Regions from separate parts of the Homo sapiens genome. Here region 2 is linked to region 1. A link means that fine-mapping ties the variant in region 1 to the expression of a gene that starts in the linked region. Tissue or cell type: whole blood. Region 1 holds a variant in brackets; the other region holds the start of a gene. All regions are shown on one strand. Distances are between the middles of the regions.

Region 1 (8,108 bases):
ATTGAGAGCTGGGTGCAGCAGTTCATGTTAATGAATAACATGTGTAATCCCAACGTTTTGGGAGGCTGAAGTGGTACCATTACTTGTGGCCAGGAGTTGAAGACCAGCCTGGGGAAAAAAGTAAGACCCCCACCTCTACAAAAAAAAAAAAAAATTAGCCAGATGCAGTGGTGTATACCTGTAGTCCCAGCTACTTGGGAGGCTGAGGCAGGAGGATTGCTTGAGCCCAAGGGTTCTAGGCTGCAATGAACTGTGATTGTGCCTCTGCACTTGCACTCCAGCCTAGGTGACAGAGGGAGATCCTGTCTGTAAAAAAAGAAATAGAAACAGAATCTGATTGCCCAAGCTTGTGTCTTATACATCCATCGTCCCCAAGGTTTGGGGTCTGGGTTTGAGATCAGTAGCCTTACCAAAATGTATGGACTGAGGAGGAGTGATTGCCCAAAGAAAAGGGTGTTATAGGAATCAGAATAGAAAACGAAGTGATAGAGTGTCTTCCTCATTTTTATGCTGCCATGACAGAATACCACATACTTGATAATTTAAAATGAACAGAAATTTATCGGCTCACAGTTCTGAAATGTGAGAAGTTCAAGATCGAGGGGTTGGTATCTTGCAAGAACTTTCTTGCTGTGGTATCCATGGGGGAAGATGGAAGGGCAAGAATGAACAAGAGGGGGCTTGCTCTTTTATAATGGCACCAACCTTGTCTATGAAGAGGGAGCCCTCATGGCCTAATCACCTTTTTTAAGGGTCCCACCTCTTAGCACTGTTACAATGGCAATTACATTTTAACATGAGTTTTGGAGGGGATAAACATTCAAAACATAGCACTGGGATACAGAACAGGACAACAAATGTTCACTACAAATACCACCCGGCTCATATATTCTTTCAATAGCAGCAGTCTGATCAACAGTTACTGAGTGCCTCCCCAGAGGCACTGGGAATAGAGTAATGACCACAGAGGAAATGATCTTTTCCCTCCTGGAGCTTGTAGTCATGAGGAAAGATGGACACTGGACTTAGACCAGTGTGCTGAGCACTGTGCAGTGAAGTACAGAGGATGCCTGGGAAGCTTTTCTGTCTGCCTTTCTGTTATTCAGGCAGAGGTGGGAAGGGCTACCTGGAGTTGTCTACATCTTGACTGTGAGCTCCTGAGCTGCATGGACCCCAGAACTAACAAAGGCCTGAGAGTTGAAACAAAAAATAAGGGAGGAAGAAAAGGAAGGTGGGAAGACACACCGAATGCACTAGATTTTAGTTTATGTCCTGCTTCCCTTTGGATAAAGTGTCTTTAAAACTAACTTATTGTGTGGCCATCTTGCCCCCAGGTTGGGGATGGGAAGTGGGATGACACTGGTGCAGTGTGACAGCTGATGGCACTTCCCTTACAATAAATCATAGCAGGGGGTTGAGCCTGTCATCTGGTAGAGCCCTCTGCTTCCACCAGAGCAATGGCCACATGATTGACCCCAGATGGTGGCAGCTCCTAGGCCCAAAGTCCCCCTCTCTAGGTGGCCTGCTTTCATATCTCATCAACCTTGCAGCCAAGATAATTTTCTTGGATAAACATCAAGATGTTGGCCTTGGCTATTCTTGAGTTGAGGGATGATGTGTAATTTCTTCTCTTTTGCTTATTTGAATTCTTTCCTTCCTATTTAAATAAAATGATGGTGAGTCACTTTCAAAATAAAGAAAATTGAATTAAAGAAGTTATTTTTAAAGCCAATCTTTTCTCATGCCACTATATAAGCTTACTTTCTCTTATTTGGTCTTCTCTATGACAATAAAGCCATACGATCACTCCACACTGCAGCAAGCACTTCAGAGACGGCCACAAGTCATGAAATTAGGTCTGTTTTATAAATGAGCAAAGTGAGGGTCAATGAAGTTGACTAATAGGTCCAATATCACAAAGCTAGAAATGGTGGAACTGCCAGAGTCTGTGTCTGTGTCTAAGTCTACATATATGTCTATCTGACCTCAAAATCTGTATTTTTGCCTTTATACCATTCTAACTTGTGTTAAATATTGGAAGAAGTATTTATTCAGCTAGATTAACACGGCCGCAGCTAAGCCTCAGCCCACAGTTAGTCTCTCCTTTCTATCATCTCACCTAATAACTGAAAAATTTCCGTTGTCCCAGAGGTCATAAATACTACTACTACTGTCACCACTACTATTATTATACAATAATAATGATAATAATAATAATTGCAGCTCCCACTTCAGAAAAGCTTATGATCTAGCACTGTTTTAAGTGTTAAGCATTTTGCCTGCATGAACTTGTTTAATCTCATAAAAGTTAGACGAATTAGGTAATATTTTAGTCTCATTTTAAAGACTGGGAAATTAAAGCTTAGAAACGTGAAATCGCTTGTCCAAAGTGAAAGCAGTTAAGTAGCTGGATCACAGTCTAGTCCCAGGTCTCCTCTGACTCCAGAGCTGAAGTATCATGCTATACTGCGATGCTACTCTTCGAAGGACACAGCAAGAGAGGAAACAAGGAAGATTAGGAAGGCGGAAGGCTCTAGAATGTGTTTCTTGACCTTTTCTTTTACTGAAAAAGAGAAAAGAAAATGAGAATAAAATGGAACTGCCGGCAGTGAATTTCAGCTGTCTCCCCCACAGCAGATCCCTTGCAGCCTGAAGATGAGCTTCACCCACACAAAGGTATGTTGTTTCAATTTGGCCTGGGCTGGAGGAGGGACTACCTTCCCTCTCTACAATGCAAATGCAAAATTTCATTTTGCATTGAAAGTACAAGTCCTGATTCACCAGCCTTTGTTTTACCCTTTGCATCTTATTTTCTTTTTTAAAAAGTTTCCTTTAAGGCTACAAAAGGATAAGAAAATTTTTGCAAAATGTTTCCAGCTTTTAGCATCCACCTGCTAAATTGCCCTCCACTCCCAAGTTACCCTGTCTGGCTCTCTAGCAGGTGTAGCTTGCAGCTGTAGCAGATTTTACCCTGCATGGGACAGATGGAGGGGATACAGCCTGCACAGTAGGGTAGATTTTTTTTTTGAAATACATGATCAGATCTTCATCAAAGCCTGGTAGGCAAATGTGGCATTGATGCAAAGTATGCCAAGTTGGCAGGTGTCTGTGTCTGCTGCATTGTGTTTGCAGTAGTGGGATTCCTTTTGGGGGTGGTGGTTGGCCTCTCCTGC[G/A]GCACAAGCAGATCATTTTGCATCTGAGTTGTTTTGAAGTAACTACCGTAGATACCTGCTTGGAGGAGCATTGCAGTGAGGGTGTTGGGGAGGGGGTGGAGGTGAGTGGCACAGGCGCCTTAGAGACCTGCAGTGTATGACTCAGGGTGAGCAATACATCCTCCTTGAAGTTTGCCTTCCTCACTTTTAAATGAGAGTGGGTGGCAGAGCTGCTAAAGCTCGTCAAAGTACACGGATCGTGTACTTCCCTGCTTTCTCCACCACCTTGCATAAGTGGGTCATATGACCAATCCTATAAACGAAGGGACACTTCCCAGTCAGAGAAAATTAAGACAGAATACGCCAGGCAAGCTTGGAGGCCATACAGCATGGTTACAAGATGAAGGACGGCTGGCTGATCCCATCAGAGATGATGTGGGTTTACATACTGTGGAAGCTGACCAAACCAAGGGTAGTCCTCAGCAGGATGGTGGCGATGATTACAGACAAAGAAGATAAATCACCTGGCATATAGTAGATGCGCCAAAACAAAACAGCAACTCTTTTTATGAGCTCTGTAGCTACATCAGCCTCTATGAACAGAGGCTCTAAAGCAGACCGGACAATGTTAGATAATTCCTCTCTTTATATTGCATCTCATTCATGCCAATTCTCCAAGAAACTAGATTTGAGAACCCTGAGATACAAGAAAAAAGGTGAAGGTCATCATTGTCTTTGAAAGATGACTCTTTTCATTTAATGTTTCACCTCATGGAAAACTTTCTCCTGAGTTAGCATTTCTGGCGAGAATGACTCACACAGCCTTTGATCACCAAGGCACCATGCCCCTCTCATGTGACCTTCTCAGCGGCAATCAGTAGTAGGGGAAGTAAGGGCTGTGGGTCAGATAGGCTTGGCTTTGAAATCTAGATCTCCCACTTACTTATCATCTTCGGAAACCCTTAGGAAAGTTATTCAACCTGTCTAACGTTATTAAATGTATAAAATGGCAATAATCATATCTGCTATATTAGACAGGGTTGTCCAGAGATACAGAAACAATAGGATATATGATATATTATAAACATATATATTACATATGTCACATATATTATACATAATCACATATATTATATGTCCCATTGGTTATGTGATGAATTATAAATATACATTTTTTGTATATTATATGTAATACATGTATATCTATATTACACATCCTATTGGTTCCGTTTCTCTGGAGAACCTTAACTAATACAGTATATATACACTATATATATATGGAAAGAGAGAGAGAGATTTTAAGTAATTGGCTTACACAGTCGTAGTGAGCTGACAAGTCCAGAATCCATACGGCAAGATGGCAGTCTGGAAATTCAGGTGAGAGATAATGTTACTGTCTTGACTCTACAGGCTGGAAACTCAGGCAGAATGTTTATATTGCAATTTGGAGGCAGACTTCCTTCTTTAGTAAACATCCATCTTTGCTCTTAAGGCTTTCAATGTGTTGAATGAGGCCCACCCACATTATGGAGGATAATCTGCTTTATTTAATGTCAACTGATTGCAAACATTAATCACATCCACAAAATACCTTCACAGGAACATCTAGACCAGTTTTTGACCAAGCAACTTTTCATCATGATATATCCAAGTTGACACATAAAATTAACCATCACACCTGCCTAGCTAAAGTGGTTGTTATGAGATTTAATAGAACATGCAACGTGAACTTGTCAGGGGCAGGATCAGGCACAGAATAAAAGTTCCCCAGTGATCGTATTTCCTATTACTGTTAACTTATTGCCACTGTAATCATTTCTTTTATTTTCTTCTCCTCACTACCTGTTTCTGATACTTTGGTTCTCCCTTCATGTCTCATCCCTCTCTGCTCTCAAAAAGAGAAGACAATACCATAATTCCCATTAACCCAAAGGAAGAATTCATCTAAATTACCAGAGAATCTGACCTTGTAAATGTTTTCAAAGAAATGCATTTTTTGGCTCTAGAGTATATTTGACACTTGTAATTACATGCTTAGCTGGTTCCCAGTCTGCTATGACATCTGCTCCTTGAGAGTAGAATTGTATTTCCTTCACTTAAAAAATCCTTGGTTCCTAAGAAGTGCCAGGTAATTATCAGGTGATCAATTATAATAATGATTGATTGGATTGATTGAACTCATGGATGAATGAGCTAGAACAACTACAAACCATTTATACTTTTTAGAGCAGCAAAATAATATCTCTAGTAAAAGGCGTTAAAAGACCTGTAAGTCAAAACAGTGATGTTCAATTCAGAAGTATTGAATCTCTAAAATTTATTAGGCATACATTTTTGGTAACTGAGTATTATGTACTGAATGTTTTTGTCCCTATAAGATTCATATGTTGAAGCTCTAATCCCCAATGTTATGGTATTTGGAGGTGGGGACTTTGGAAAATGATCTGGTTATGATAATGGGTCCTCCATGAATGGGGTTTGTTCTCTTATAAAAAGAGGAGGAGACACTGGATCTTTCTTTCCAACATGTGAAGCTGAAACAAGAAGACAGCCATCTGCAAACCAGGAAGTGAGCCCTCACCAGACACCAAATCAGCTGGCACCTCAATCTTGAACTTTGCAGCCTTTAGAATTCTGAAAAAAAATACATGTTTGTTGGGTAAGACACTGAATCTACAGTATTTTCTTATAGCAGTCTGAGCTATGACAGTGGGTGAGTGGAAATCCTCTACAGTCCTTTAGCATCTTCCATCAGTATTGGCCCCATGGTCTTACCCTTCTTGTTTCATGCAATGCCCTGTTTCCCCTATTAGAGAGCAAGTTTGTTGAGGGCAGGCACCATATTTTAAAACATCTGTACCTGACTCAGTTCTTACAGGTAGTAGGCTCTCAAAAAATAAATGGTGGTTAAATTTTTAAAGTTGAGTTATTATCTATATATCTCCCATACTTTAATTTACTTTCTCAATCTTTTTAGCATCTTGATGAGGTACAAAGTATATAGAGTTTGGAAGTTGGAGGGTGTGCCTTTTGGGAAATTTTATATATTAAACATGGTTCCTTCATATATATAAATGCTGATTATACATAGCATCCTGGCCACCTTTAAAAGATATTAAGAAATAAACTTTTTGTTTTGAAAATTAGCAAATACAGGAAAAGACTCAAGCATTCATCTCTCCTTTCCTATAAAATCTGAACCACTGGGCAATCAGACGGTAGATGTTTCCTTGCACAGATATATTCCCAATAAAGAAGATGTGATCAAACTGGAATATCATCCTTTTCAATCTCTAATTAATTAGATATCTAACCACTGATCAGAAATGGCTGCTGACAACACAAAATGACATAATGTCACTCTTGACAAAGAATATGACACCACCTAGGAAGTAATTGTTCCCCACAAAATTCAAAACAAAAAACGATTAAGCCTCTGTAATCAACTTTCAGTTGGCAAGAAATACAGAAGACTAAGGAAGACATTAAACTTTACCACAGACATGCGATCAGCAAAATTCCAATGGAGTAAAGTCTACAAGACAAATGATGCAGTTTTCAAAGAAACAAATTTCAAAGGTCAGGGAGGAAGAACTTATGCATTCAAAGAGACCCAATAGGCATATTAAACAAACAAATAAAACCAGGCAGAGCTATACTATAGTATTTAGAAACGTAATTGGTAATAAAAACTATAAAGCAAGATGCAGAGGTGATTATCATAAACTCAGCCATAGTGGTTATTCTGAAGGTGAGGATGTTGGAAGGGGCAGCTGGAGGGCTCCTGATACAGCTAGCAAGATTTCGTCTCTTTTTATTCTTCGGTTCTTAAAAGGGCATGCTATGGTTTGAATGTGACCTGAAAATTTCATATGTTGGAAACTTAATCCCCAGTGCAACAGTGTTGAGACATGGGACCTTAAAGAGGGGATTAGGTCATGAGGGCTCAGCCCTCATGAATGAATTAATGTTATTATTGTGAGAATAGATTAGTTATCTCGGGAGTAGGTTCCTGATAGACAGATGAGTTTGGCCCCTTTCCTCCCTTTGGCCTTCTCTCATCTTCTCACCTTCAGCCATGAGATGATGCAGCAAGAAGGCTCTTGCCAGATGCCAGCACCTTGATACTGGGTTTCACAGCTGCCAGAACTGTGAGAAATATGTTTCTTTTTAAAAATAAAGTACACAGTCTGTGATATTCTGGTACAGCAACACAAAACAGACTAAAACAAGGCATTTGCCTTATAATAATTTTTACACTATTTTCTGTTTTTCTCGTATTTGAACAATACAAGTTTTTAAAAACAGCTGTTCTGCCTATTTCACAGAATGAATGGTGCCTACATAAACATGACATTTAATAAGTACAGGAACCTCGTCTGTATTCTTCACCGTCATACTCCCAGGGGCTAGACTGGCTCTTGGCACATGGTTGGACTAAATATATATTTACTGAATGTATTAATAAATGAAACTATAAAATCAAATATATACATGAAATCATATTATGATGATGACTATTAAATTCAGCAAAGTTACAAATTCCCAAGGAGTGCATTCCAGATCACTGAGAATCTTTTGTGTACAGCAGACGTGGTTCTTTATAACAATATTGCCCGCTGCTAGACTACAATAACAAATAGGACCTGAAGAGGATTGAGGCTGGCCATTGGCAGAGAGCTGACATCCAGTGATGTACAAGTCTTCCTGGCAGCACACACATCACTAGTCAGGTCCTGTGCACCTCTGTCACAGATGGATCTGCAGGATATTAAGGTTATACTCTCCACTCCAAGTAGTGGGGCTCAAGAGCAACCATCTGGCTGGAGCCCACTGCTAGGGGACATGTCCTAAAGTCATTTTGCACAGCAACACACTTTATACACTTGGAGGAGAATCAGTGGATGTTGTGTTCATTATCTATCACCATGTAATGACATTAGCACAAGCTTAGCA
Region 2 (8,108 bases), 56 kb after region 1:
AGATTACAGGCACATACCATCATGCCCGGCTAATTTTTGTATTTTTAGTAGAGACAAGGTTTCACCATGTTTTACCCAGGCTGGACTCAAACTCCTGACCTCAGGTGATCCACCCACTTCGGCCTCCGAAAGTACTGGGGTTACAGGGGTGAGCCACCATGCCCAGCGAAGAATGATTTTTTTTTTAGACAAGTCTCTCTCTGTCGCCCAGGTTGGAGGGCAGTGGTGGGATCTCGGCTCACCGCAAGCTCCGCCTCCTGGATTCACGTCATTCTCCCGCCTCAGGCTCTCAAGTAGCTGGGACTGCAGGGGCCCGCCACCACGCAGCGCTGATTTTTTTTTTTTTTTTGTATTTTTAGTGGAGACGGGGTTTCACCGTGTTAGCCAGGATGGTCTCCATCTCCTGACCTCGTGATCCGCCTGCCTCGGCCTCCCAAAGTGCTGGGATTACAGGCATGAGCCACCACGCCCGGCCAGAATGATTATTTTTTTAAAAGAAGCCCCATAGTATACCTTGGGAAAATGCACGTGGGAGACAGCTCTCCAGCATATTCTCTTTCCAACCTGGAAGAACCTGCATAAACAAATGAGAGAGAAGTAGAATGTATCATACCTGATCAACAGTTACATATGTTGATACATGTATCAATATGTATAATTGCAAACAGTGGAGGCATGTAAGAAGATGGGAATAGCTGATGTTCCAGCTTCAGCAGGAAGACTCCAGTAGTGCAGGTACCCTTATCACCAGGGATCTACCGGAAGCAAGACATAAACTAGAGGCTTCTATCTTCTGTTCCTTCATCCACATAACACTCTAGAAGTTCCGGGCGCAGTGTCTCACTCCTGTAATCTCAGAATTTGGGAGACCGAGGCGGGCGGATCACAAGGTCAGGAGATCTAAACCATCCTGGCTAACACGGTGACACCCCGTCTTTACTAAAATATACAAAAAATTAGCAGGGCGTGGTGGTGGGCGCCTGCAGTCCCAGCTACTGGGGAGGCTGAGGCAGGAGAATGGCGTGAACCTGGGAGGCAGAGCTTGCAGTGAGCTGAGATCGCTCCACTGCACTCCAGCCTGGGCGACAGAGCAAGATTCTGTCTCAAAAAAAAAAAAAAAAAAAAAATTTCTTAGTGCAGAATGAGGCAATAATAAATCATTAGCATCAAACTGAGCTCATGTAAGGATGGGAAAAAACGTCTTGTGTGAAGCAGGAGAAAACCCAAATCAATTACCCAATGTGTTGGTTATTGCAGCTTACTCAGTAATCTGAGGAATTCAATCATTGTTCTAGACTCTCCCTCATTAGTGCATATTAAGACACTTCTACTGTAAAATAATGAGCAAAAGACATTAGTGGGGAAGAAATAAAGTTTTGTTTTGTTTTATATAACATTTTTCCAAAGTATAAAGACTGTGAGTATTCTTAATTATAGAAACATCATCCATTCATTCGTTCCATTTTAACCAAAGGCGTGGCAACAGACTTTACTTGGAGAAAGTTGGAGTTGATTAATATTCTAAACTCTAAAGCAGAATTTTATCGTGTGCAGAGATGGTGTCAATAGTCCTAACAGACAAGCTAGTGAAATTTGATTCCATTATGGACAATTAGTATCTAGGACAAAGAAAGGAATTTAGACTTTCAGATTGGGCTGGTTGATTTGTAGGGAGAAAACTGTGGGTGTGTGAGGGAGAGTTAGAAGTGGGGTTTTGGGAGAAAATAACAAGAGGAAGGAAGAAACTTGAAACCACTACCGTTTTAACAGCGCTCTTATTTTCTGCAAGTAGCTATCAAAATCATTCAGCATTTTTTATATACAAACAGTTTTGCATCTTAATAGTAGCTGATAAACAATCTCCTTTCACATTTATGCACAGGCATCTAAAAAAAAACGGTGATTTTTTTTTTTCTACTAGAAGGAAAAATACCACATTTCTTTCAAGGAAAAAAATGAAGTTAAAATCATTGCCAAAGTGAACACTGGCATTTAAGAAGCACAAGCTACTGACAGATGGTTAATGGTCTGAGTATCAGCAAAATCAAAGCAAGGAAATTGCTAAAAGGAGTCTAATCGTTCAAAAGATAATTGCGTATCACAGTTCTTCTACATTTACTTGCTACTGGTGTTGACATCAGTTGAGATATTCGGTACATCTTGGGAAGGCCGCTTGCTCAAACTTCACAGATTCTCTGCAAAAGATGTTAAAAAAAAGGTGGACTATATATTAAAAATAGAAAAATTATGCCAAAACAGATGGCATCTACTAATTGCACTAGTCAGATTTGTTTACTGAAATAATACAGAGATACAGAATTGAAGGTAGGAGACCAGACTGAAGACACAACCCCTCTAAAGTTGTGTCTGCCTCTATGACTGAACATTTTCCATTGCCTCACTCAGTGCATCTCAATAACATTTTTCTGTAAATAAGAACCACACTTTATTTGGAAAATCTAGACTTAAAAAGGTTGATTTGTAATCCAAAGAAAATAATGAAAGTGAGGTATTTGATTAAGAAATCTTAATAAAATGACTGGTTCTAACAGTCATTTAGCCCCAAAACAAACTTACGTGTATTTTAATCATCTGACACAAGTCAACTTCATTATCAAGTTTCAAACAGTGCTTGGAGATTGGTGTCTGTCTTTTTCCCAACAACTTGAACCATTGACAGGTAGTCACAGAGAGTGATTTTAATAGTTTTTATCAGCCTGGACATTCCTAAACAGCATAAGTAATGTTGCACTAAAGATAGCATACCATTGGGAAGATTTTAGAACTTAGTTCCCATGAAGACATGATTTAATTTCTCAATTACTAATTAAAAACATATCAAAGTATGTAAATTATGCAAACTTTGATCATTTACTGTTCATCAAATAGAACCAACTTCTGTTGACTATGAAACTTTGTATATAGTATCACTATCCTAATCGCTTTATAAGGTAGGAGTAAATTATTTTCTGATTCACCACTTATGGCCACATTTTGTAACATGAGAACTAGTAATGGATTGTTTTTGTAGCTGTAATTCAATCAATCAAACCAGGCTAATTCTACAGCTTCAAGTTGAATATTTCAATAAATTATATATAAACCCTATTAGGAAAATATAAACCTGGTTTATAGAGACCTGTAAAGATGTCAGGAGAACTTTCTGGCCTTCCTTGGAAGATTTCTAAATCAAAGCACACATTTACAAATTTCATTTGTTTGGGATATAAAATAATCCCAGTGTAATGTAATATATTAGTATGTTACTTGTTCTTTTCATTTTTGATCAATATTGTACGGGTATGCCCAGCCCAAATTACCTTATTTTAGTGTTCCCCAAGTATTAAGCTTAATTTTAAGCCTATAAATCCTGCAGCAAAAGAAGGTCTTATTGCTCTATCTCACAAGTGCTTAGAAGAATCTACAGGCAGTACACTGACATTCAATAGAAAATTAGTAACAGTAGGAAAAAAAAAAGCCCTTCAGTTACAGATCTAAAACTTTTCAAGAAACAGAATCTGCCAGTTCCATCAAAGCGACACATCTATTCTGAAAAATAATGTGTGCATACGTGTTCCTTCCAAAGGGAGTTCCCAGCCTCTTCTTCCAATTGACAAAGGACAAAATTATTACTGAAATACGAAGCTTCCTGTGGTTGACAGTGGAAAAATTGAGGACTGAGCAGTTCCTCGGCTGAAAAATGTCTGAATGTCAACAGGTGCAGAAGTCTCTTAATAAAGGGAATCCCACCCTACCTTCTTCTCACAGATGCCCACGCACATTGCTGTGCACAGGTGCTTGCAGAGAAGTTTTGTCTTCGGCAGCCTCTTGTTCTCTTGTCTGTTTCCTGGTATAAATGAGTGTATAGTTCTTGGGAAAGTCAGTCTTACAACTTCTCTTGTTTTCTTTTGAAAACAGCCTGCGTAACCAGAGGCAAAGAAGCAGAATGAGGTCACACTTCCTGTTGGGCTCACATCAGTGGCATTCACACTGAGGAGTGTGCTGAAGATTTCAGAGAGTTTCCTGGGCCAGCAGCAGGGAATGTGCAGCCCATGTGTCAGGCCAGCTGGTTACACCCTGGTCACTGGAGGGGTGGTTTTCTGAGCTAACTTGTCACCTTTGGCTGCGAGAACGTGAGAAAGACTCAGCGAACTGACATTTCTTGCTCATCATATGGCCACATTCAGTTATAAGTAGTGCAGAGTAGTGATCTTTGTCCAAATCACTTAAATTTATTGAGGATAATGCACTGATGCTATTAAATTCAGAATACTATTAAATAGCAAGAGCTTGATCTTATGAAAATTTCTATAGAGGCAATAGGTTTATCTAATGAAGGTTGGACTTCACAAAAAACTCTATAGATGGCATTTTACATTTACATTATAGTAGAGCTCAAAGACTTGATGGTGTTTATGGGTTCATACACATCTGTACTACTGTAAGTGATAAAAGAAATGTACATTCAAATATATATTCCAGCAACATTGAGGTACCACTGCATAGTGGAAAGAGTGCGGATTCTGGGGTCACAAGACAGAAATTCAACCTGTCTACCATCCTAGCTGTGTGACCTCAGATTTGTGACTTACCCCTCTGAGTTGCAGTTTTCTCAATTATAAACATAAAAATATATATGTCATATGATGGCTTGAAGAATTAAATGAAATAAAAGAAATGAGAAATAATCGAGTCCTCAGCACAGATGTGCAAGGTGTATTCTTTATTTGTTTTCTTAAATCAAGTTCTCTTCTGAGGCACCAGTTGGTCCGGCTGGCGGAAAAGTTAATCTCATCCTTTCCTGGGGTTCCCTTTCCCCCTGAGGTTCTGCCACATGGCAGGATCTTCTGTAGAACATGTTCTAGGCAGCAGGAACTGTCAGGAGGAGGGCCCATCTAATTTCAAAGTTCTCTGTCTCTGGAACTTCATGTCTATTCTCCATCCCTTGAGTGTAGACTGAGGCTGCTGACATGCTCCTTGTAAATAAAGTAAGGCAAAGGTGCTGAGTTTCCACTACCATGATGAGGCTTCCATCTTGTTGGACTCTATTACTTTCTTGCTTGCCTGCTTTGATGAAGCAAGCTGCCATGGTGGAGAAGCCCATGTGTCAAGGAATCAAGAGTGGTCTCAAAAGCCAGTAAGGGTCTGATGCTCCATCCAACAGCCAGGAATCCAGCCAAAAACCAAGTGTGTGAGCTTGGAAGTGGATCCTTCTCCAGTTGAGCCTTGAGCTGACTGCAGCCCCATCTAATGCTCGATTGGAACTGGGAAAGACCCAGAAGCAGACAACCCAGGCTAGCCCTGCCCAGCTCCCTGGCCCACGCAAACTGGGAAGTGACAAATGGTATTTCAAGCCACCACGTTTTGAGGTAATTTGTTACACAGCAACACATAGCAGATGCATAGTCCTAACACAGGTCACTTCCTGAGCCATCTGTCATTGCTGACTCTCTGCTGCTTTAGTGACTCCTGTAGAATATAGTCACATTTACTCAAGGCTACTCCTGGTCACATCTGCCTAAATTTAACAGACAGCTATTCTGCTTCACAGCTGTCTGGTATTCTCTTTACTGGAATTCACAGTTCTCTTCTTCTCCTTTTCCTGTTTTTCTTATCCCTCATCCTCCCTCTTCCAGCCTTGGCTTATCTCTTCTAGATGAGGGAGGAAAATCTTTCTGACTTATTCGAGACCCTCTGCTCTTCCTGTGCCCACAAATCCACTTTTCCGAAGAGCTCACATCAGAAAGACTTTGGTCTACTTTTTTTTTTTTTAAAGATCTGGCACATATTAGAACCTTATTATTAATGATCATAATAATTGCTAACTTTAAGGAGTGCTTACTATGTACCAGGCACTGTTCTAAGGTCTTTCCACATATCAACACATTAATTGTTACATCAATTCCATGGGAGATGCTGTATTATTATTCTCATTTTACAGAAGAGCAAACTGAGTTTAGAGAGTTGCCCAAATTCACATAGCCAGTACGTGATGAGTAAGTAGAGCTAGGATTCAAACCCTGATGAGATGGCTCTCGAGTTTGCTTTCTTAACCTATAAGTGTAATGATCATATCCAACGTGTGTCAGCATTTTCTACAAACCAGGCACTGCACTAAACACTGTACATATGTAATCTTGTTTCAACCTCACGTAGCCCTAGAAAATAAGTGCAATTGTTATCCACATGCAGGACAGAGGTTTATAGAGTTTGCATAAATCTTTCAAAATTGCCAATGGCCAGAACTAAATTCCAAACCTATGGTTCCCCTCTCAATCTTCTCTCTTGAGACCCACTCATCTTCTTCTTGTTTCTCATACACTAGACACGGGTCTACTTCAAGATCTTTGAGGTTAGTGTTCCCTCACCCTAAGGGTCACAGGGCTTTCTTCCTCCCCTCCCTCAGCTCTTTTCTCCACTGCCTTGCTACTAATTAATTGCCCTCCACACCACTCCCTAGTCTCTTCCTGCTTTATTCTTCTCCTTAGCACTTTTTACCAAGGAATATGTCACACAATTCATTCCTTGTAATAAGAAACGTACTCCTCAGCCAGAACATGAGCATTAAAAGAGCAGAGAATATTGTCATTTTGCTTCATTTTAATAGCCCAAGTATCAAGAGTAGTGCTTCCCATATAGTAGGTTATCAATTAATGTTTGTGGAATTAACAAATAAATTAATTACATCCAGGTAGACTTGCCTTCAGAACCTTTATTCTGCATGTTATAAATCAATGTTTCTAAAAGCATGTTCCACAGAATATTCAGTCCTCCACTGTTAATGGAGGTGATGCGTGTGGATGGGGAAAAGACGAGTGGCAAATTTCAGTACAAAAAGTTCTAGAAAGCATAGGTCTCTAATAGAGGTCACTATAGAATCTTTTAAATGATACTCGGACTTGCTACTATACACAGGAAACATGGTCTCACCATCTGTCAAAATTATTTGCCTTGAGAATCTTTTGGTCACATAATATCTCCCAAGACCCCAGTTCCAGAGCTATGTGTTGCAAACGTTCATGTGTTGCAAATGAATCACAGAGGATCTTACAGAAGTGAGGGAATTGGAGACAGTGTTTCATATCAGCTCCCACGTAAAGCCAAAACTGTTAGTCCCTAAGATACTCTTTGACAGGCGGAATGCTAAAGAACTCATGTTAGGAAATGCTGACATAAATTGATGGACTTGACAAATTTAATTTTAACACACTACAAACAACGAACAAACATGTCTGCATGCTTCCTTAAATCCCTCATGTACTCATGATCTCTCTTCCTACCCAAGCCTCATCCTGCTCTGGAACACTGTGTCCCATTAGATGGCAATATCTTCCACCCAATCACTCATGCCAGAAAACTGGGAGAAATTGCGACTCCTCTCCATGTAGCTTTTGAACACGGACTTGAAATCTTGATTCCTCTTCATGTAGCTCTTAGGCTTATCATCTAAGTCTCCATCTCCACTATCTGCTCTAGGGCTCCAGCTACATCAAATCAGTATGCATAAGCCATATAATAATAGCTATCAATAAGGTACATTACATAATGAAAAATATGAACTGGGAGGTTGTGTGTGTGTGTGTGTGTGTGTGTGTATTGCACTTGTTGCCTGGACTTCCATGCCAACATGCCAAAGTCACTTGGCCTCTCTCCAATACACTCCCCAAGCCATGGTCAGAATGACCTCTCCAATAGAATATCTGATTATGTCACTCCCCTGATTAAATTCATCAGTGCTTGCCCTTGCTCCTCTCTCCTGTGAAGTTCAAAATCCTCTTCATGGCCTGCCAGGCCTGGTAGGGTCTGGACTTGACTATTTTTCAGCCTCATTGTTCCCTCAACAGGCCCCATCTGTCTTTTTAGAATTCAACCATGCTGGCTTCCTTTCAGCTTCTCTAGCTTTGCTCCACCTCAGGCCCTTGGAATGTGCTATTTTCTTCATCTCCCATCTCTTTCTGAAAGAGCTTTTTCTCTGAGCAGCCTCTCTGACCCTCCCAGACCAGGTTATGGATCCCATAGCTGTCTGCGCTTTCCTTTCAGAGGATGCATCACAATTGGAACTAATGAGCCAAGTTTCTGTCCATGTTGGTTCCTCCTGCTACACTGTG

What was found. PIP is the estimated chance that this variant, and not a neighbour inherited with it, causes the effect.
Region 2: it holds the start of TMEM71, and the variant in region 1 is fine-mapped to the expression of TMEM71 in whole blood (INTERVAL, PIP 0.98).

The regions. Positions count from the first base shown.
Region 1 is chr8:132,700,385-132,708,492 of GRCh38, forward strand. It overlaps a transcript of DNAAF11 not described here and a transcript of TMEM71 not described here. Among named protein-coding and RNA genes, the nearest start is that of DNAAF11, 29 kb to the left of the region's middle. The variant G/A (reference allele first, on the strand shown) is at 3,174.
Region 2 is chr8:132,756,721-132,764,828 of GRCh38, forward strand. It overlaps TMEM71 (transmembrane protein 71), which reads right to left and starts at 3,862. Exons shown (of 10, transcript NM_001382403.1): 1 at 3,756-3,862; 2 at 2,120-2,195; 3 at 514-574. The coding sequence starts at 2,159.